2 separate regions of the Homo sapiens genome follow, and region 2 is linked to region 1. The links come from fine-mapping of genetic effects on gene expression. A gene starts in region 1. The other region holds a variant in brackets. All regions are shown on one strand. Distances are from middle to middle.

Evidence for each region. PIP is the estimated chance that this variant, and not a neighbour inherited with it, causes the effect.
Region 2: its variant is fine-mapped to the expression of SPX in pancreas (GTEx, PIP above 0.99).

The regions. Positions count from the first base shown.
Region 1 is chr12:21,523,353-21,528,891 of GRCh38, forward strand. SPX (spexin hormone) reads left to right here and starts at 2,944. Exons shown (of 6, transcript NM_030572.4): 1 at 2,944-3,126; 2 at 3,534-3,614; 3 at 3,783-3,840; 4 at 4,375-4,437. The coding sequence starts at 3,121.
Region 2 is chr12:21,558,484-21,563,483 of GRCh38, forward strand. GYS2 (glycogen synthase 2) reads right to left here. Exons shown (of 16, transcript NM_021957.4): 6 at 4,745-4,862; 7 at 4,435-4,555; 8 at 1,903-2,009; 9 at 1,168-1,227; 10 at 608-686. Among named protein-coding and RNA genes, the nearest start is that of SPX, 35 kb to the left of the region's middle. RefSeq lists an enhancer at 1-640. The variant T/A (reference allele first, on the strand shown) is at 1,891.

The DNA of each region.
Region 1 (5,539 bases):
CCCAGCTTTCAGAGTTGAGTAAGGAATTTCCATTGAGTAAGCTACCCAGTTTGTTGTATTTTGCTATAGCAGCTTGAATGGACTAAGAGAGGGACCATCTCTTTCTTTCATGGTAACTTAGTATGTGGTGGATACTCAGGTCCTTGTTCAATATCTGCCTATGTATATAGATCTTTTAACTGAATATTGATATACTTGGAATCCTATCCCTCTTGCCTTCTAAGAATTTCCTTTTGCTGTTATATTCCCTTTCTTCTACATCATGAATTTCTCCTTCCCTACTGATCATCCCCATCAATATACATGTCTTACAAATTGTTTCTTAGTTGTCACATCAACAGAAACCAATAAACATGGCTGATTTGGGCAAAACAAAGATTTTATTAAAAGGACACTGCAGCTGGCATCACCACTGCTACAGCACTGGATGCTGGAACTTGCCACTAGCACCGTAGCTAAGACTACTCCAGAAACTCAATCTTACTACAACCCCTGCTTCACCCGAGCACTTCTTCCATCCTGGCATGAGATTCCCCATCTAAGCATGCTCATCTGATTGGTGAAGCCCGTGTCATATGCCCACATTCTCCCTGATAGGGAGGCTAGAAAACTGACTATCTGGCATTTTCAGTTTGTACAATAGAAGAAACACTCTGCCTCCCAAAAAGATTCATAATTTCATAATTCATAATTCAGGGAATTTTAGGAATTTCCTAGAAATGAAAGGTTTCCCAAAAAGTATAACAAATCTTCTATCTTATCTTTTAAAAAAAAAAAAAAGATTTCACAGGCCAAGCATGCCTATAATCCCAGAGGTTTGGGAGGCTGACATGGGAGGACCAGTTGAGGACAGGAGTTTCAGCCCAGCCTGAACAACATAGTGAGACCCTGTCTTTAAAATAACAATAACAATAATAATAACAGTAAAAAAAATTCTCATTTTTTCCTTTCCCTTCTTTTGTGACATCTGTAAAAGAGATTGTTTATTCTTGGCTTTAATTTATCATATCATATTCACTATTCAACCAACTCCAATCTTGCTTCTATCCTCAAAACCATCATATTCCAAATCCAGTGGATGTTTCTTGGAGCTAATGTTGCTTGACCTCCCAATACTACTGGATCTTCACTTGGCTTCCATGATATCAGGGTCCCCTGGAATTTCTCCTTTCTTTCTGACTCTACCTCAACCTCCTTTTCTGGCTCTTCCTCTGCTCATTCTCTATGCGTTTGTTTTCATAGCTCTGTCCCTGCCACTCTTCTTTAGCCCTATTCACTCCCTAAGTGTTGTGTTTAATCTCATCCCTTTACTGGTTGTAAAATTCTTAGAATTCTTAAAATTCTTAAAGCTAATCATTTCTGCCCCCCACCAAAAAGAAAATCTGTAGGCTGGTGACCTCTTGGCTGACCTCTATCAAGTTTTGCATTTCTAACCTTCTATTTTGTACTTGTACTTGGATATTTTTAATATACATTTTAATTTTAATATGCCTATATGGCAAGTGTTAATTTCCCTCTCATAACTTGCTTCTTAAGAAGTTTCTCTAATTTCAGTAAATTACTTCATAATTTACCCACAGTTTTATCCATAAACCTAAGAATCATCCTTGATTTATTTTTCTCACACTTTCATATCCCTTTTATATACAAGTTCTATATTTTCTACCTCCACAACATGTATTCCAAATTCATTTACAGCTCTTCTTTCCCTGTGTGTACCATCCCAGTGTAAGCCATCATCATCTATTGCTTATAATCGTATTTCCACATCAACTGGCCCATTTCTTCTTCTCCAATCTCATTTCAAAGCACCTCCCCCGTTCACCCACACAACGCTGCCTCCATTGGCCTCTTTCCTAGTCCCCAAGCAAGTCATGCTCTTTGCTGTCCACAGATTTTGCTTTTCTTTCTTCTATTGAGAATGCCTGGAATACTAATTCCTGCCCAGCTTCTCCCATTACTTCACCTTATCCTTCAAGACTACCCTCTGTTTTTAACCTTCCCTAAAGTAGCCCACCACTTATCCTATCACATCACCTTGCTTACTTTTACTTAACAATTTAAAACATTCTGTAGTTACAGTAGTCCCTGCTTATCCACGGTTTCACTTTCCATGGTTTCAGTTACCCATGGTCAACTACAGTCTGAAAATATTAAATGGGAAATTCCAGAATTAATAAGTTTAAATTGTGAGCTTTAAATCTGAGTAGGGTGTTGAAATCTCTCACTGTCCAGCTCCAGCCCACCCAAGACATGAACCATCTTTTTGTCCAGCATGTCCATATGTAAACACCACTCTCCCATTAATCAGTTAGTAACCATCTTGGTGAACAGATAAAAAAAAATAGTATAATAAGGCATATACGTATCAGTGGTTTCAGGCATCCACTGTGGGTCTTGAAACATGCTCCTCCACCCCACACACACCTACGATTAAGGGGTAACTACTGTGTCTTATTTATCTATTCATCAGTTTACTGTGTACCTTAACTAGTAGGTAACTTAGATCAAAGCAGAGACCATGTCTTTTCAGTGCATGGCTGTGTCCCTTGAAATACAAGGATTGTGTGTCTCATAGGCACTCAATAAATATTTGCTAAACAACAGAATGAATTGATAATTAAGTGAATGACTGATGTCAAATTCCATTGAGATTCCCAAACCTTTTCATACATCTTTAGCCATCAGTGATAGACTGATGGCTAGTTACCCAAGAAAAGTTTTCTGATTTATTCTTTTACTTTTGATTCTGCCTTGGACTATTGATTGTTTTCATTAATAATAATAATAACATGTTACTTTGGGCAGCTAGTAGGAAAAGCAAGGCCAATGATGCTGACACATTCTGAAGGCCTCCTGGGTGATGCAATCAGTATTTAAACAAATAATTTCTGCCCATCAATCATTCCTCTACTTCCTGCAATGAAGCTCCCTGGAGGAGTCATCAGATTCTCAATCTTGCTTGAAGACTGACAAGATGTCCCTGTGGACTCCCAAACTCTACTCCAGATGGGGAGGTGCCCTTAACACCAAGATTTTAAAAGCTCCAATTTCAGAGCAAGAGTCGAAAACTCACAGATAAAGTTATAGTTATTTCAGGGTTCTGAAAAGACGCAGAACATGAAGGTAAGTAAAGGCTTTATTAACTTGAGACTTCTTAGCTATTTTTTAAAACGTTTTATAGCATTTTACCTATTTCATGTTTAATAAGGATTTTAGAGTTTAAAGGATATTTGAACGATACGCCTTTAGAATAACAGAATCATTTGATTTTACTAAGAAAAAAATTCACGTATTTACTTATTCTTCATTTGGGTGAAGTAATACAAATAATATGTTTCTAAATACGTTTTTTCAAGTGGACTCTTTGTGAATTAACTAGAAGGTAGAAGGGAAACACCTCCAGAAAACTGAGTATTAAAACAGAATATTGCGAGAAGTAAGGGGGTTTATAATTGTCCAGGCGTCAAGGAAGGAAGCAGAAGATCCTATTGGCACAGAAATGACCCTTTCTGGTTGATCGCTTCATATAGGGACTCAGAAGTCTGGCAGCAACAACCTTGGCTCTTTTCCTGGTGTTTGTTTTCCTGGGAAACTCCAGCTGCGCTCCGCAGGTAATCAAATGCAAAATAAAAAATTTTAAAACAATGCGCACTGTGTGTCCACTCTGCTCTTTCTTTCTTCCTTCTTGTTTTATTCTCTTCTTTTTCCTTTATTTTGCTGTAATAGAGGACTGAGCTGCAATGTTTTATTAACTGCTCTTCCCTTCCCCCGGGCTATAGAGACTGTTGGAGAGAAGGAACTGGACTCCTCAAGCTATGCTCTACCTGAAAGGGGCACGTAAGTTCCAAATATTTCGCTCTTCCTACAATAATGGAAGACCCCTAGGAGTCAGGAACAGATAGATGGAGAGTTATGGAGAGAGAATAATGTCGAGTTTATTCCCTTAAATCATCGAGGCCATCAAAGAGACCGGTAGGTGAGGGAGGGGTGGGAGAGGGGAAGAGTCCCTGATTATTGGAAATCCTCCATCCTTATTAGAAATTCTCCATCCAAAACTGGAGGGTTGCTTCTCTTGGTCCAAATGGGGACTCGGGTTGCCTGGGAAATATCTCAGTAACCCGACCTCCGCTCCAAAGCGCCCTTGCGGCGTCCGGTCAGGCGCGGGGCTTTCCTCCAGAGCTCCAGGGCCCCTGGCTCAGCCCGGGGTTGCGCTGGGAGCGCTGGAAACTCGGCAGCCCCGCGCGACCCTATCCTGGAGCAACCTGCCCCCTCCCCACGCCCGGGGACTGCGCTGTGCCGGGAGGAGCTGAGGTTTAAGCCCGGGTTGTCCCGGGCCAGGCTGTCGCTGAGCCCCAGGTCTCGTTTTTGCAGAGGGTCGCCGCTTCATCTCCGACCAGAGCCGGAGAAAGGACCTCTCCGACCGGCCACTGCCGGGTGAGTGACCAAGGGTGCAAGGGCGCTAGTCCTGCGCTTTTGGAATAGGATGGGGCGGGCAGGGCTTGCTCCGCGCTGGTGCCGAAAGAAAGCGTCTCCTCACCGGAAAGACGCGGCTCTGAGGCGCCCTCAGATACAGTCCGCCCGAGGGCAGCCCGGGTTGGCAGCAGCAGCAGCTGGATGCCGAGCGCCGGAGCTGGGAGCTCGCGCGTCCAGCCCCGCGCCAATGGTGGCAAGGGCGGCCCAGGCTGGCGCTGCGGCTCCCCAAGCCTTATTGGCTTGCGGCTGTTCAGCCAGCCCTCTGGCTGCCAGGGTGTGCAGAGGTCCCCAGGGAGTTAGGACCTGAGGTGCAGCTCAGAGGGGTAAGGCGAGATAGGAAGAACTATGCAAATGCTTCTAGAAATGTATCTGCGCGTTTGTGCAGGAACTTTACTCAGCCTCCTCTTAAACGCTGTTATTATTAAAATAAGAACTTACCTAGGAACTTCAAATGTATGCTTTTGTTTGACTAGAAAGAACTATCAAAGGTTCAAAATCAAAAGAGTAACATGCGGGCAGTTAAGGATGGGACCGGGGACTGTTCTTTTTCATGATAAACCTTTCCATCGTATTGTATTAACAAATAACAATACAATTTGATGAAATTGTAAAGATTGAAATGCTAAAATTAAAAAGTATACTTACTTGGAAAAATACCAAACACTGTTGAACACATAGTAGGTGCTTAAATTTTTGTTTAGGCTCTTCAAACATGCTGTGTAATTGAGCTTATTTATTTTATGAGGTTAAGATTTGTTTCTCAACTTCAGTTGCCCCAAATTAGAAATCATGTTTTGTGCTGAATCAGAACAATTTGTCTTTTTTCAACTTAGATTTGAAATAACTTTGAGTTCTTAGCAGATACTCCTTCAGTCAAATAATTACCTTATATTTGGCCGCAAAGGTTAAATTATTATCTAAAATTCTCTTTGGCATATAGTTTAACATTCTCTTCCATACCCTGTTTGTAAACTTGACATAACCAATTGTAAGTCATTTCCAAGGCAATTGTGACATGTTAAAAAATTAGTCTTCTGTGTAAGTAGTCCTTTGTTGAGGGGTC
Region 2 (5,000 bases), 35 kb after region 1:
GAAGAATCTCCTTTGCATGCTATGAATACATGAAGCTTTTGTTTTCCGCCTGCAGCTACTATATGAGAGACCTGGACTTCTTGATTGCTTCCGGGACTTATTTGGAATATAAAGGTGTCCTGAAGTCTTGACTTAAGATGAACTTTACTGATTTCTTTTAGCAAGGCTGTCCTCCAGTATCTGATTCTTCCCTATTATAACAAGCATTCTGATGCAAGCCTGACACATTTGTTTTATCTCCTTTGTAATAATTCCACTCGACTAAGAAATATTCTTTTCTCTAATGTGACTCAAATTCTATGTTTTGGAAGTATTTAGGACTTTTTTGTAGTTACTAAACTATACATAATTTTTATATTGAATATATTAATTCAAAAATAATTTTGTAAGCAAGTGGAAGGACAAGTTTCATGAGATGTTTTAAAGGAGCTCTTAAAACCACTAATGAAAAAATGTCCAAAGTAATCATTTAAGTGACTATGTAAGAATGTCTTTTCTAGCCTCAGGTCTGAAAATGTTCCAAATTAGCACATTCCAATAAATTAAAATACTGATTAGATAGAATTTAATAACTATGGGACATAGTGGGTGCTTTTTTCCTTATTACCTGAGTTGAAAAGATGGCTCTTTTCATAATTGTTAGATCATCTCGATCTAAAATATCGTTCAGGTCAGGAATTTCTCCTCTGCAGGGAAAAAATGTTAATAACAAAAATAAAAACAGCTGGCACTAATTCAGTGATTCCTAAGCATCAGATTATATATTATATATTTCATGTATTTTAATAAATAATGTTGATTATTCTATTAAGTAAATGTGTTCACATAGACTTAATATTTAAGTACATATTTAATACACATTGTCAATATATATTTTGAATTAAAATCTCATGAAGTCTCTCTCAGCTTCAGACTGACATATCAACCCTTAATGAGTTCATCATTGAATTAGAACTTGCCTGCATATAAATGTATTCTTATTTGTACAGCTATTTACAAGTTTTGTCAAATGAAGGGTAAAATACTGTTCACATGACATAACACATTTTCAAAGGTTATTAATTCCTTGATATTTGGAACAAAATTAATAAGTTATGATGTCTAAATTGTTAAATTTGAATAGTGAAACCTTAAGTGATTGAAGTAGAAAGCATTTCAAGCACCTACCTTAATAATGCATCATAGAGTTTTTTTCCAAACTTTTCCTTCACAGAATGTGCAACATCCCTGTTTGAAACAGAAAGATTTATCATTTAAACAGTATGACAATGTTTAATCTTTATTTGTCACGATAATGCTATTGTTTTGTTGACATTCTTTGAAATTACATTCTTTGAAATTACAGGTATCTTTTTTATAGTCTCTTCTATTATTTTACTACTTGCCAATTCAGCTTAAGTTGACATCTCCAGAGCTGAGGCAACAGAACACCATGGCCAGCACAAAGAGCTTAAAATTTTTTTGCTTCATGATGATTGGAACAGGATAGAGAGCAGAGAGGGGGAGTAGATGAAGGTATAGGTGTAACAAGACGGGAATTCGTTGATCATTGTTGAATCTGAACTATGAGTATACAGGGAGTCATATTACTAAGCTTTTTACTTGACATGTTCTTAGAATTTCACAATAGAAAGTTAAAAAATGTTTGACTCATCTTTAAAGATTTCTACAGGGCCTTGTTCCTTCAATGGTAGCTCATTCCAAAATTTGTATAACACCTATAATGTTATAACCATTACGATAACCTAAAATAGTAGCACGATGAAAAGAGAGTCAAGTATTATTTGTCTGTAATAATCTTAAGGAAAAAACAAAGTTCAAGGCGATACATGAGATGTCATTCACTTAAAAGAAATCTTTTCACATTTATTGCTAGAGAACATTCACAGG[T/A]TGTGAGATTACCACAGCTGTTTTCGCACTGCTTGTCCTTTCAGGGTTTCCACGTTGAAATTATTTGTCTTGGCAGGCATAATGAAAAACACCATCACTGTGATGTCACTTTTATGCATCTGATGAGGAATTAGAAAACACAGAGTCAACTATCAAAGATTTTTAAAAAGTATGATAGATGGAACTTAAACATTGAAAAGTAGAGTTTTAAAATATCAGTAGATAAAAGGTATAGTTATTTATGTTTCACAGAGAGATTATATTCACCTTCCTGAGACTTTTTCAGAAATTTTAATTAAAATCAAAATAAATTTTAAATTTTCAGTCTGTACTTGCCAATAAACAAATTGACTTTCAATCAGTATTTGTCAGTTAACAATTTGAAAATTCAAACAAAATATTTTCGTGCCTTTGACCATCTAGAATAGATAACAATTGCTATTGATGACACTGTGCTTTTCTGTGGTTAAAAAAATAGCATGAATGAGAGCTAATATTACAAGACCAAAATTAGTTCTTTAAAATTTCAGATTGGAAGTTTAATGAAGATTTAAGCTTTGGTAAAAGCTAAAATAATATTTCAATTTTTTTGCTTATTCATGTTGATTGATGACAGATAGATTATTTTTACTTTTCCGCTAAATGTCTTGATTCTCATGATGTTGTATTTTGGTTTTTAGCCCTAAAGCAAAGAAACAAGCACATGACGAGCACTTTTGGGATAGCAGACACTGTGCTGGGTGCTTTAAATATACTACTAATAATCATGTACAATAGGCATTTCTCTCCTCATTTTATTAATGTCAAAAGAAAGGAATGAGAGGTTAAATATTTTCTCTGAGTCCTATAACAGGTTAGTGCCAAAGCTGACATTTAAACTGCTGGCTTAGCATCTCTCAAAAGGAAATGACTTGTTAAGAAGCTGTAAGAATGAAAGCATAAACTCACTTAAAATCATGAACCTCTATGAAGGTTTATGTGTTCTGGAAATGACTGACTAGCTCCAGAGTGTGGGGCACTTTACCGTCTAGTATGCAGCCTCGGCCCTCTAGGGCCTGACATTTTATTAGGGAAAGCTACTGAAGGCATACAATAGGAAACTCACCCTAGGAACAGCCAAGGTGCTATCAAAAAATAAATGTACTATGTGGAAAGAGAATTCCTTCTTTTAACTTCTCCAAGTATTGCAGTTATCTTTTATGTCTAGTATAATAGTAATCAGTCTTTTCTTCATATCTATAAATAAAGTGAATATTTAATAACTATATAAATGCATTTATTAATAATGTCCCTAAAGATTGTATATGTGATATAGTTGTGAGTCCATTATAAAGCTTGTTGAATGAATATATACTAGGAAATATTAAGTAAGGTTATTTAAGAATAATCTTTTTAGTCTTCAGTTCTGTTTTGCATAGTTGGATTTTATTAATAAATCGCTTGTTTATTAACGTGGCTTTAGTAAATTTTTTTAGCATATTTGGCATAATGTCTGCTCTAAAGCAAAAAATTTATGTCCAAGAAATAAAAATTTAACTGGAGGGTAGTACAGAACTCAGGAAAGTTTAGATTTTCTCATTATCTCATTAAGATTGAAATTCTACACTCTTCTCCTGTGAATATTTTCCTATTACTTATTCTACATTTTTATGTGATGGGATTGGAATATAAACCAATAGCTGCCATCAATAGCTATGACATGGTATCTTTTTTTATAGTTGCTTTTATTTATGCATATTGTGTTGCTCGGTTAGTTGAGAACCCACTTTGTATCCCACCTTCCTGAGTAAAAAAAATGATTTCACATGGTTGGGAGTAAGAACCTTCTTTTTCCTCCTTCATGCTTTCATGTGGTGTGACATCCACTAGTTCAAGAGTTTAAAACTCTTAGTCGCAGGGAGGTGGTGTGGCTGGGGAGGTGAGTGAACCGAGTGTGTATGTGTCTGCCCTGTTCTATAGAGAGTTCGTGCTGTCGGGTTTGGCTGCCAGCTATGTGGCACGTGCTACTCTGAAGGCCTGCTTCAGTCGGGAGAGGAGAGTGATGGTCAGAGCTTCCTATGATTAAATGGCTAAGAGTCATAACAAGGTTCAGTATTAGGATGCGTATTGTCATGTGCATAAGCCACATCTTCCATTATAGTCTTCACTGATTTTCTGAAAATTGATATTTTGCTCTGCATTTACTGGATTTCTCTATATTTACTTTTCAATTGATTACAAACTCATGTGAGGGAAAAGGGATGTTATAATGACTTATTAAAACATAGAAGGGGAGAATGGGATAAGCTTAATGAGACATATAATGGGATAAGCTTAAGATTCTCCAAAAAAAAAAAAAAAAAAAAAAAGATGACATTATAGACAAACACACAAGTCAACAGTGTGGTAACTCCAATATGTAAATTGAAAGGCTGAAGCCATTTTTAGAATACGATTATCGTTTATTCTCTTGAAAACTATTTAAGAAGCCAAAAAATTCTTCACTTCCCACAGAAGAAAGTTCTCCCTACAAGAGTGTTATACCATGTCCTAGAGCTTTCTTACCCTCAGCAGGAAATTTAGCCTGGATAAGGATTCTAGGAAGATGTCAGCTCCTTTGTTTGAAAACTCATACCTCCCAGCAATGAAAAGGAACAAAGTCTTTTCAAGATCAAAGTCGAGATGACTAAAACAAAACAAAACCAAACAGTTTCAAATGAAATACAGCAACAGTAACAAAATGTACACATGAATTCTGTTAATGTACAAAGGGGGCTGGGAAAGATAAACATTTATTATTACAATTCTGTTTTCTCTCTACCAAAGATCACTCATATCTGATACTTCTTTTTCTTTTTAATAAAGAAAATCATACCCATAGAAATGACCTCGAACAAAATCTTGGATTCTGGCCTTGTACATGGCATGTAGATTTTGAAACTCATGCACTGCTGAAAATTTCTTAACATTCAAGCCGTTTGGAGTAACTACATCTAGAAAGGCAAAACAAAATTATTATGAAAATTCTCTTTTCAAAGAGGGTACCATTGTAGAAAAAAGTATCTTTAAAACTATAAAGTTAGATGTTTATTGACATTCTACTTTCTGACTACCATAAAATTTAAAATTTA